2 separate regions of the Homo sapiens genome follow, and region 2 is linked to region 1. The links come from fine-mapping of genetic effects on gene expression. A gene starts in region 1. The other region holds a variant in brackets. All regions are shown on one strand. Distances are from middle to middle. Region 1 holds the start of FAM161A (FAM161 centrosomal protein A). Region 2 overlaps FAM161A (FAM161 centrosomal protein A).

The links. PIP is the estimated chance that this variant, and not a neighbour inherited with it, causes the effect.
Region 2: its variant is the best candidate, but not a certain one, in a credible set for the expression of FAM161A in whole blood (INTERVAL, PIP 0.68).

What each region holds. Positions count from the first base shown.
Region 1 is chr2:61,851,533-61,856,915 of GRCh38, forward strand. It overlaps FAM161A (FAM161 centrosomal protein A), which reads right to left and starts at 2,528. Exons shown (of 7, transcript NM_001201543.2): 1 at 2,327-2,528. The coding sequence starts at 2,509. It also overlaps the pseudogene RPL31P30. RefSeq lists enhancers at 2,012-2,141, 2,302-2,461, 2,702-2,931, 3,672-3,721.
Region 2 is chr2:61,830,039-61,835,421 of GRCh38, forward strand. All of the region lies in intron 5 of FAM161A (FAM161 centrosomal protein A), which reads right to left. Among named protein-coding and RNA genes, the nearest start is that of FAM161A, 21 kb to the right of the region's middle. The variant T/C (reference allele first, on the strand shown) is at 2,770.

The DNA.
Region 1 (5,383 bases):
CCATGTTGGCCAGGCTGGCCTCAAACTCCTGACCTCAAGTGATCTACCTGCCTCAGCCTCCCAAAGTGCTGGGAGGAGTGAGATTTTAATTGCGAATTACAGAATACTGCGTTACCTGTGTCATCATCAGTCATATAACAGGATATGTGGACCAACATCTCTGACTAAGGCTAGATTCAAGGAACAGGCATCAGTGCCCAATATGGGCACTGCAAGGGGGGTGCGTGTGTATGCCAGAGCTGGGAGGGTGTATAGGGATGGTGCAGGGGTTGGGGGGTTGGGGGGCAGTGTGGGGTGGGATGAGTGGTCTGGCTTTGGCAAAACCAAAGAGCTGAAAGAGGCCTATTGTGATGGGTGGTTCTCAAATCAATCTTGTGGGTTAGGTATAATATTTGACTTTACTACATTTTATAGATAATAAGGTTAAGGCAAATTAACCTTTAAAAATCAAGATGGAGACCCAAGCCAACCAGTGAAGAAAGCAGAGCCTATTTCCTGCACTCTTCCTGCCTTCTTAATGCCTCTTCCCCCAGCCTGTGCCCCCTGGCTATCAGGCCCACTGTGGCAGCTTACCCAGCTTTACTTTTGGATCCCTCATGTGTGGTGGTCTCAGAACAGTACCAAACTCTTAAGACTTGGCTTCCTTTTTTTTTTTGTAGGATCCTGTCCTTTCCAAACTAGATTATTGTATAAACTGATCCCTCCTAAGGTAATAACAGTTTCTAACACAAATTTGCAGTTTAACAGGGCACTGTGGAAGCATATCTGCAACTTAGAAGTGACTGACTCCTTTACCACAGCAAGCCAAAGTTGAGTTTAATCTTTGGGAAGGCACACAAATGACACTCCCACTGGCAACTCATTTACATAGATTGCTCTTTAGAGGAGACACACATTCTTTCATTTGGTTCTCATAGAGCTGAGATGGGAAAAAAGAGACAATTATTATAGTTATTTTACAGATAAGGAAACTGAGGTTTAAGGAAATTATGTCCTAACACCACCTAGGAAGTGGCAGGGAATGGATCCTAATACAGAACTCTTCAATCCTTTTTCTCCATCACGTTGCCTTGTTGCCTACTGAAAATTGTGTTGAGGGGTAGCTTCATCATGAACAAAATCGGTCCTAGCACTCTGATCCTGGTTCATGTTCAGGGTCTCAGTCTGCCTTACTCTGGATAACTTCAAGTTGTTTGTCTGTTGGTGAAAGATTGGTCACAAAAGGTGTTGCTAAAGATGTTCTCATTAACAATTTTACTGTAGATTAAAGAGATCAGAATTCCAAAATATCCAGTGATTTCAGTTAGTCCTCAATCATAAGTTTGGTGTCTGAGAAGCTTTGGACACATGGTATTAGGAAATTTTTTCTATCTGCAGATTGCTAGTTTAAATTCAAGATTCCCATCTTTTTTTTTTTTTTTTTTTTTTGAGACTGGGTCTGAGATCTCAGCTCACTGCAACCCTCACCTCCCAAGTTCAAGCGATTCTCCTGCCTCAGCCTTCCGAGTAACTAGGATTACAGGGGCGCACCACCACGCCCGGCTAAATTTTGTATTTTTAGTACAGACGGGGTTTCACCATGTTGGTCAGGCTGGTCTCGAACTCCTGACCTCGTAACCCGCCCACCTCGGCCTCCCAAAGTGCTGGGATTATAGGCACGAGCCACCGCGCCCGGCCAAGATTCCCATCTTTTAAGTGAATTGAGCAGATGGCAGACCCTGCCCTCTACCTGCTGGACTGGTGTCCACAACAGATTTAACAATGAAAACTGATCAGTGAAAAGGCCGTCTCGCTGTACCCTAAAGAGCTGTTTAGGAAACACTGAAACCTCAGTGATTTGCTTATCTGTATCCGTGTCTGATTTAGCCAGTGAACACGTGATGGTTTTAAACACACATCTTTAGAGCACTATGTTGAGATCCGCTTATAACCAAGATCTTAAGGTAATAACGAAACACACCTGACAGAACAGTTTTCCTCAAATTACTATATATAGCCAGATATATCTCTATATATCCATTCCCGAGATGCTGGAGAGTAGAGAGTAAAATTCTATACTTTGCACTTGCCAGAAGCAGAGTAACATAAATGTTGTCTAGGAAGCTTTTACAACAGACTGGTGAAAATTAAAACACTTTTCAACGCCTCGATTTAGAGTAATTTTCGTGAGCGTAGAGAAGGGGCTGGGCCAGGACCACCAAGTAGGGACTATGTGCACAGGGACCCGCGTTTACCAGCCTGCCCTCAGCTGGGCGGGGAACCGGACAGCCCTCAGCCTGCACCCAGCCCATGCGAGGTCCCAGCCCAAGTCCCGCCCCAGTATTACCGATGCCCCAGCGGGCTGAGCCACTTTCTCCTCCTCTTCGTCCTCCAAGATCGCCTCCGCTGCCGCCAGGGCCTTTAAGGGGTCTTCGCGTTCGTACTGGGCGACCCGCGCTCCAGTGATGGGATTTACCGGGGTCTGGAGACTGGAGGCCACCAGCTTCGCCACTCGGTGGGAGGTGGCCATCGCCCCGCCTCCGAGGCCTGAGCGCCTGCGCTGGCCCGGGACGGGAAAGCTGGTGCGGCCCCTGGCAACCCGGGGGCGCCTAGCTAGGGAGCCGGTTGCTATGGGCGCCGTAACTGGGGACGCTACAGGAGCCGCCAGGGACCAAAAGTCACGCAAAATCCACTCAGGCTGCCAGAGACCCGAGTCGGGTGCTTACTGGATCATGGCAGTCAGTACCGAGTCTGTTGGCTGGTTCCGAAGGTTGGCAGGCTGAACAGGGCACTTATTCCACTCCTTTGCGTCTAACCGCCTGAACGCAGACTTCTCACATTATACAATGAAACAACTGCTTTTGTGAAGAAAAGAACGCTTTTTTATTAACTGCAATAACATGTTAGAAGGAGACAGTTGATGGAGGAGACGGCGGCGGCGGAGGAAAGCAGGGCGTGTTACTGGGTGGCGGTCTCAGAAGAGTGACAAGGTTGGCGTCCCGCTACCTAACATGTCTCCCGCGGGGGCCAGAGTGGGAAGGAGGGCGGTACATTCTACTCTGATTGACTTGAGGGCTAGCAGGAATCCACCAATCAGAAGGAGGCTCCCAGTTGTCCCTCTCGCTTTTTTCTTGACATGACCAATAAAAGCCCAGAGTTGGGTGGCGCCTGACCCTCCCACTAATGAGTGATAGTGCAGGTATTGTAAACCTGGCGTTTGCTTTGGGTTCTTCAGCTTGAGAGTGACAGGATTGAACGGCACAAGTGCCCAAGAGTCACCACAGACACATCCATCTCCCTCATCCGTATCTTCTCTTCCCACTCGGGATTTGGACGCATCAAATGGCGCCTTCCCTCTGCACCACGTGGCAGTAAGAGAAGCCAAACCTCAAAATAGCGGACGTGGTGCAGTCTCAGACATCTGCTCCCTGAGCCCCTGCTTACTGAGGCCGAGGCTGCCGCCCCCTATCTACTCCCTATCTACCCCCTCTCTATCCTTTGCCCTCCTCCTGCTCCCCAGCCCTACGACCGGCCCCCTCCGGTCAGTATTTTCCTCGTTATGCGCTGCACATCGTCGAGAACCCGTCTCTAAGGTCTGAGCCCTTACCAAACCTTTGTTCTCCTGTCTGGGTGTGAGCACCTACAAAGTCTCCTACGTCCCCACTTCCTTCAGGCTGCTCTTGGTTTTAGCTGAACAGTTGCTTCCCATGCTGGAACAGATGCTGACTGGGTTCTAAGCAGAAGCCAGAGCCAGAACCATGAGATATGCACCGCCAGGTGTGGCCAAGTTTCCAGGGGAGCAATTTCCAGTCAGACACGGCAGCCAGTTTTGTGGCTACAAAACTGCCTCAGCCTCCGGAGTAGCTGGGATTACAGGCGCACTCCCGGGAGGCGGAGGTTGCAGTGAGCCGGGATGGCGCCACTGCACTCCAGCCTGGGCAATAAAGCAAGACTCCGTCTCACCACCACCACCACCAACAAAAGTATTGATAAGGAATTATAGCAGATGAATTATAAATAATGAAATATCCTATTCTCTTTACTGTAAATTCCTCATAGACAATTGCTTCTCTCAGAATGCTTTCGTTGGTTTATGCTGTACTCCTGTATTTGTGGCCAACTTATGGTTGCAATTGTTTAACAACCTAGTTCCAACATGAATGTTGGTTAATATTTTTGTTTTTATTTGTGATTAAGATGAGAGTGACATATCCAAGATCTATGTCAGAATTTCACTTGTCAATGTTATGAGCAACTTCTTTGCTGAAATAGATAATCATTTTCTAACACTGGAATAATTTTTCTTAATTTTTTCTGCAAGTCACAATGTAAAGGCTACAGATAACACAAACTTTTAAGTTTACTCTGCATTAATATTTTCCACATCCGTTTCTTAAGTTTAAATGTCCAATGTTTAGCTTTTGCTGATTTCCATGATGTCAATATTCCCATCATAGCCAATTTCAAGCCACCAATGTGACATCACTTAATAAGAATTTGAGAAAAGATGTCTAGTAGCACACCATTATATAGTATTTCCACCATACAGATACAGTAGATGCAAGGAACATAAAAGAAAGTGAAGAGTTTTAAGAAATTATCTTTGTTTTTGACATAATTTATTGTAATTAACAAAACAATTTTTTTTTTTTTAAGATGGAGTCTCCTTGTCACCCAGGCTGGAGTGCAGTGACGTGATCTCGGCTCACTGCAACTTCCGCCTCCCAGGTTCAAGCGATTCTCCTGCCTCAACCTCCCGAATAGCTGGGACTACAGGTGCCTGCCAACACGCCTAGCAAATGTTGTATTTTTAGTAGAGGGCAGGGTTTCACCATGTTGACCAGGCTGGTCTTAAAATCCTGACCTCAGGTGATCCGCCTGCTTTGGCCTCCCAAAGCACTGGGATTACAGATATGAGCCACCACGCCCAGCCAAGTTAGACATTATAAAAGAAAAATAACTAGAAAAGCCTTTTTAGTTGGGAAATTTAAAACTCTTCAAAAAACAATTTGTGCATTACAGAAAAAGTCATGGCAGAAATTATCTAGAGAGTCAAATAACAACAAAAATACAATGTGTCAAAATGTCTTAAATGTAAAATGGTGCAGCCACTTTTTAAAAGTTTAGGCCTTCTTTCTCCCACCGTCCCTCATGTTCTTCCTTTCCATCTTGGGCCTGGCAGAATGGCTCCTGCAAAGAAGGGTGGCAAGAAGATGAGCTGTTCTGCCATCAACAAGGTAGTGACCCAAGAACACACTTGGGTCACTAGCTCACATCCATGGAGTGGGCTTCAAGAAGCATGCTCTGTGGGCATTCAAAGAGATTCAGAAATTTGCCATGAAGATGGGCACTCCAGATGTGTGCATTGATACCAGGCTTAACAAGGCTATCAGGGCCAAAGGAA
Region 2 (5,383 bases), 21 kb before region 1:
TTAATGAGAAGACCCCTTGATATCATTCATTGAAAATGAGAATAAATGGAATTGGTGAGAATGGATGATTGTCCCTGTTATAAAGGCTTATTAATTGTCTACCCAGGGTTAACATTTTAGTAGGGGAATGAAAATGGTAAGGCGAAGGTATAATGAATGGTTCTGCAAAGAGCAAGGCAGAAAAATCAATCAAACTATTATGATTCAGATAGGAAATAAAGGTTCCACCTGGCATTTCACCACCAAGGATGGTGAAGGGCAGATCCAAAAATTATTTAGGAAGAAAATTTGACAGGTCTCTCAATGACCAGCTGAATGGGGAGGAACTGGGTACACACAGATATGAAGATGAGAACAGTAGGCCAGGCACGGTGGCTCACTCCTGTAATCCCAGTACTTTGGGAGGCCGAGGCAGGTGGATCACTTGAGGTCAGGAGTTCAGGACCAGCCCGGCCAACATGGTGAAATCCCGTCTCTACTAAAAATACAAAAAAAATTAGCCGGGCATGGTGGTGTGCACCTGTAATCCCAGCTACTCAGGAGACTGAGGCAGGAGAATCACTTGAACCCAGGAGGCAGAGGTTGCAGTGAGCCGAGATCACGCCACTGCACTCCAGCCTGGGTGACAGAGTAAGACCCTGTCTCAAAAAAAAAAAAAAAAAAAAATGAGAACAGTAGACACTGGTCTCAAACTCTTGGCCTCAAATGATCCTCCCCCCCTCAGTTTCCCAAAGTGTTGGGATTACAGGGTGAGTCACTGGCCTAATTTTTCTAATATAAAGATATTTCTGGCTGGATGTGGTGGTTCACATCTGTAATCCCGGAACTTTGAGAGGCTGAGGTGGGCAGATCACAAGGTCAGGAGTTCGAGACCAGCCTGACCAACATGATGAAACTTCGTCTTGACTAAAAATACAAAAAAAATTAGCCAGGCATGGTGGCACGCGCCTGTAATCACAGATACTCAGGAGGCTAAGGCAGGAGAATCACTTGAACCCGGGAGGCGGAGGTTCCAGTGAGCTGAGATCGAGCCACTGCACTCCAGCCTGGGTGACAGAGTGAGACGCCTTCTCAAAAAAAAAAAAAAAAAAAGATATTTCTTAGACAAACAGCACTATAATAAATCATTGCTGCATATGTGTTCAATATTGGTCTTCCCAAATAATACTTCATACTTTCTTTCTTGTATTATAGTATCACCCATAATGATTCCTTTAATTTAGCATTTATTTACTTTCCTTTTTTTTTTCTAGACCTGTTGGAACAAGCCTCGCATGTCACTAACACAAATATTAGTATTCCCAGGTTATGTACCTGCTCCCTGGAATTGAGGTTAACAGAAAAAAATAACATATCAATCTGACCATTCCCCCAACCTCCAAAACAATCATATTCACAATTTTGTCTCAACACACATCTGTAATTGCTGCAATTGTGTGTCTTGAATGACTACATTTGTCTGTCTTGTTTCTATCTGACTTTAAGGGTCTCAAGGGATTTTCTGATATTCAAAAAGCATTTGTTGAGAAGGGGGCAGGAAAACAATATGATAGATAAAAGAATCACATGAAGACAGTCAGATCTGGGTTTGAATCCTGGTTCCCCTTCTTCTGGTTGTATCATCTAAGCCTCAAGATGTCCCTCATCTGTGAAATAAGAACCTCACAGGAGCAGTGTAAAGGTCAGTTAAGACAATGCATATAAAGTGCTTAGTGGAGTGCTTGTCTTTCAGCAACCTCTCAAAAAACATTATAAACCAGCTTCCAAATAGCTTTGTGCAGTCTCCCTCTTAAATGCAAACAGACAACCAAAGATAATCTGAGGAAAGCTTCTAATATGATAGACAAGAGGCTAAAAAAGAGAAAAAGGAACTTGAAGGAAACAGAGACAATATCACCAGTATGCTCAGAGATATAAAAGACAGGCTGGGTGTGGTGGCTCACACTTGGAATCCCGACACTTTGGAAGGCCGAGAAAGGAGGATTTCTTGAGCCCAGGAGCTTAAGACCAGCATGGACAACACAGTAACACCCCTGTCTTTACAAAAAATACAAAAATTAGCCTGGCATGGTAGCTTGTGCCTGTAGTCCTAACTACTTGGGAGGCTGAGGTGGGAAGATTGCCTGAGCCCAAGGGGTTAAAGTTGCAGTGAGCCGAGATCATGCCACTGCACTCCAGCCTGGGACAGAGTAAGACCCTGTCACACACACACAAAAAAAAACCAACAACAACAACAACAAAAAACCAACAACAACAAAAAAAAACGTACTGCACCCATGAAAAATACCAAAGGAATATTTAATAAATGGGAAGCATTCTGGAAATTATGTCATTTTTCATTAGGTAAGCAAAAAATGCAGATTTGGAAGATAAATTTGAGGAAATCTTCCAGAACTAGAATAAAATAACAGTGATTTTAAAAGAAATACAAGAAATGTAGATAAATCCAGGTTAATATCTAACTACTCCCCAGTATAACAGTGAAAAAGTCCTAAGATGTCGTTTATGCCAGAGGCCTAGAGCAGGGGTCCCTACCACGAACTAGGTACGGGTCTGTGGCCTGTTAGGAACCAGGCTGCACAGCAGGAAGTGAGCAGTGGGAGGGCGAGCATTATGGCCTGAGCCCTGCCTCCTACAGCGTTAGATTTTCATAGGAGGGTGACCCCTATCGTGAAGTGCTCATGCCAGGGATCTAGGTTGCATGCTCCTTATGAGAATCTAACGCCTGATGATGTGAGGTGGAACAGTTTCATCCTGAAATGATCCATT[T/C]CCCGATCCATCCACCCCACCCCACGCAACCCTGGTCTGTGGAAAAATGGTCTTCCATAAAACCAGTCTCTAGCGCCAAAAAGGTTGAGGACTGCTGGCCTAGAGAGAAACCATTCCAAAGTGGAGCAGGACACTTGTGGGCTCCAGGGGAGGAAAGGAACTGATGAATTACGAATGTGTTTAACTGTTTGAGGGGGATTTTTGAGAGCTAACAGAAAAGCCTAAGAATAATAATGATACATACATTGGTGGGGAATGAGGGAAGGTGGGGGGAGGACCAAACAAAATTAGTAATTATTAACACAAGAAAAAATTTTTTTAAAGGAAATGTGATGGGCCAGGCATGGTGGTTCACGCCTGTAATCCCAGCACTTTGGGAGGCCAATGCAGACGGATCATCAGGTCAGGAGTTCGAGACCAGCCTGACCAACATGGTGAAACCTCGTCTCTACTAAAAAATACAAAAAAATTAGCTAGGCACGGTGGCGCGCACCTGTAATCCCAGCTACTCAGGAGGCTGAGGCAGGAGAATGGCTTGAACCCAGGAGGCAGAGGTTGCAGTGAGCTGAGATTGTGACACTGTACTCCAGCCTGGGTGACAGAGTGAGACTCTGTCTCAAAAAAAAAAAAAAAAAGGAAATGTGATGATAATAATATAGGGCTCAGCTGCTAACATTGTTTACTAAGTTATAACACTGAATTCCGATCTAACTGTGATAGAGCTGACTGGGAAACAGAAAGATGGAAAGACGTTGAAAGGGTAGGTAAGTGTGCTTCCGAGAGGACGTGTTAAAACAGCTAAATCCTCACCTACCATATCAATAAGCTAGTAGATAGAGTCTGTAATGAAAAAGATAAAAGAACAGTTGAAAGAATGTTACTGAATAATAAAATACCACTTTGTACCCACTAGGAAGACTATAACAAAAAGACAGACAAAAGCTAGGTGCAGTGGCTCATGCCTGTAATCCCATCAACTTGGGAGGTGGAGGTGGGAGGATCACTTGAGGCCAGGAGTTCACGACCAGCCTGGGCCATACAGCGAGACCCAGTCTCTACAAAAAATAAAATTAGCTGGGCATGATGGTGTGGGCCTTTGTCTCAGCTACTTGGGATGCTCATACTGGGGATCATCTGAGCCCAGGAGTTCAAGGTTCCAGTGAGCTATGATTGTACTACTGCACTGGCCTGGGCAACAGAGTGAAACCCTGTCTCTAAAAATATTTTTCTAAAAAAATCAGACAGACAATAACAAGTGCTGATGCTATTCACAACAGCAAAGACATGGTAACAACCCAGCCCATCAGCAGTGGATTGGATACAGAAAATATGTTACACATACACCATGGAATACTACACAGCCATAAAAAAGAATGAAATCATGTCCTTTGCAACAATATGGATACAGCTGGAAGCCATTATCCTAAGCAAACTAAAGCAGAAACGGAAAACCAAACATCATATGTTCTCACTTACAAGTGGGAACTAAACACTGGGTACACATGGAAATAAAGATGAGAACAACAGACACTGGAGAATATAAGAGGGAGAGTGGAGGGAGGAGGGCAAGGGTTGAAAACCTACCTATTGGGTACTATGCTCATTACCTGGGTGATGAGTTCAATCATACCCCAAACCCCAGCTCACACAATATACCCTTTTTTTTTTTTTTGAGATAGAATTTTGGTCTTGTTGCTCAGGCTGGAGTGCAATGACGCAATCTCAGCTCACTACAACCTCCGCCTCCCAAGTTCAAGCAATTCTCCTGCCTCAGCCTCCCAAGTAGTTGGGACTACAGGCACGCAAAACCATGCCCGGCTAATTTTTGTATTTTTAGTAGAGACAAGGTTTCACCATGTTGGCCAGGCTGGTCTCGAACCACTGACCTTAGGTGATCCACCTGCTTCGGCCTCCCAAAATGCTGGCTGGGATTACAGGTGTGAGCCACGGCGCCTGGCATACCCTTGTAACAAACCTGCGCATATACTCCTTGAATTTAAAATAAAAGTTGAAAAAATAAATAAATAAATAAATAAGAAAAACCCAGAAGCAGTGTAAAGAGCAAAAACAAAAAACTTGCAGTTCAGAGCTGGAGATAATGTCTTTGAGCCAAAAGCCAATCACTTTATGATTATAATGTAGAACAGCTTAAAATGATTTTTCCCCCTAAAGTTGAAATAAAGATGTTAAAAAAATCCATCACTTAAAATGAAAGGCATTATATAAAATTATATCTAGATCAGTGAGCAAAAAGATTACGTAACTTTGAGAGACTGTAATGTGCAGATTCACCCACAATACATGTCCACTGTCCTCAATGAGTCACTGGCAAGTACAGTTCTGTAACTATGCTCATCTGTTACAGGTAAATTCTCCAACTGTCTATTGTCCAATTATAACAGCTTCAAATTCACAATTTAGAACCTGTAACCTCCAGTGATTTTGTCAATTGTTAAGCCATGTCACCCATACAGATGCCTCCCCTATGGGACAAAGGAGAAGATGACCTAAAATTGACAAATTTCCCTTAAGGGAAAGGTTGTAAAACCGGGCATAAACTTAGTAAAATCAGGGTCCACTGTCCGTAAGACTAGTTTGTTTTTCGTATAGAAAG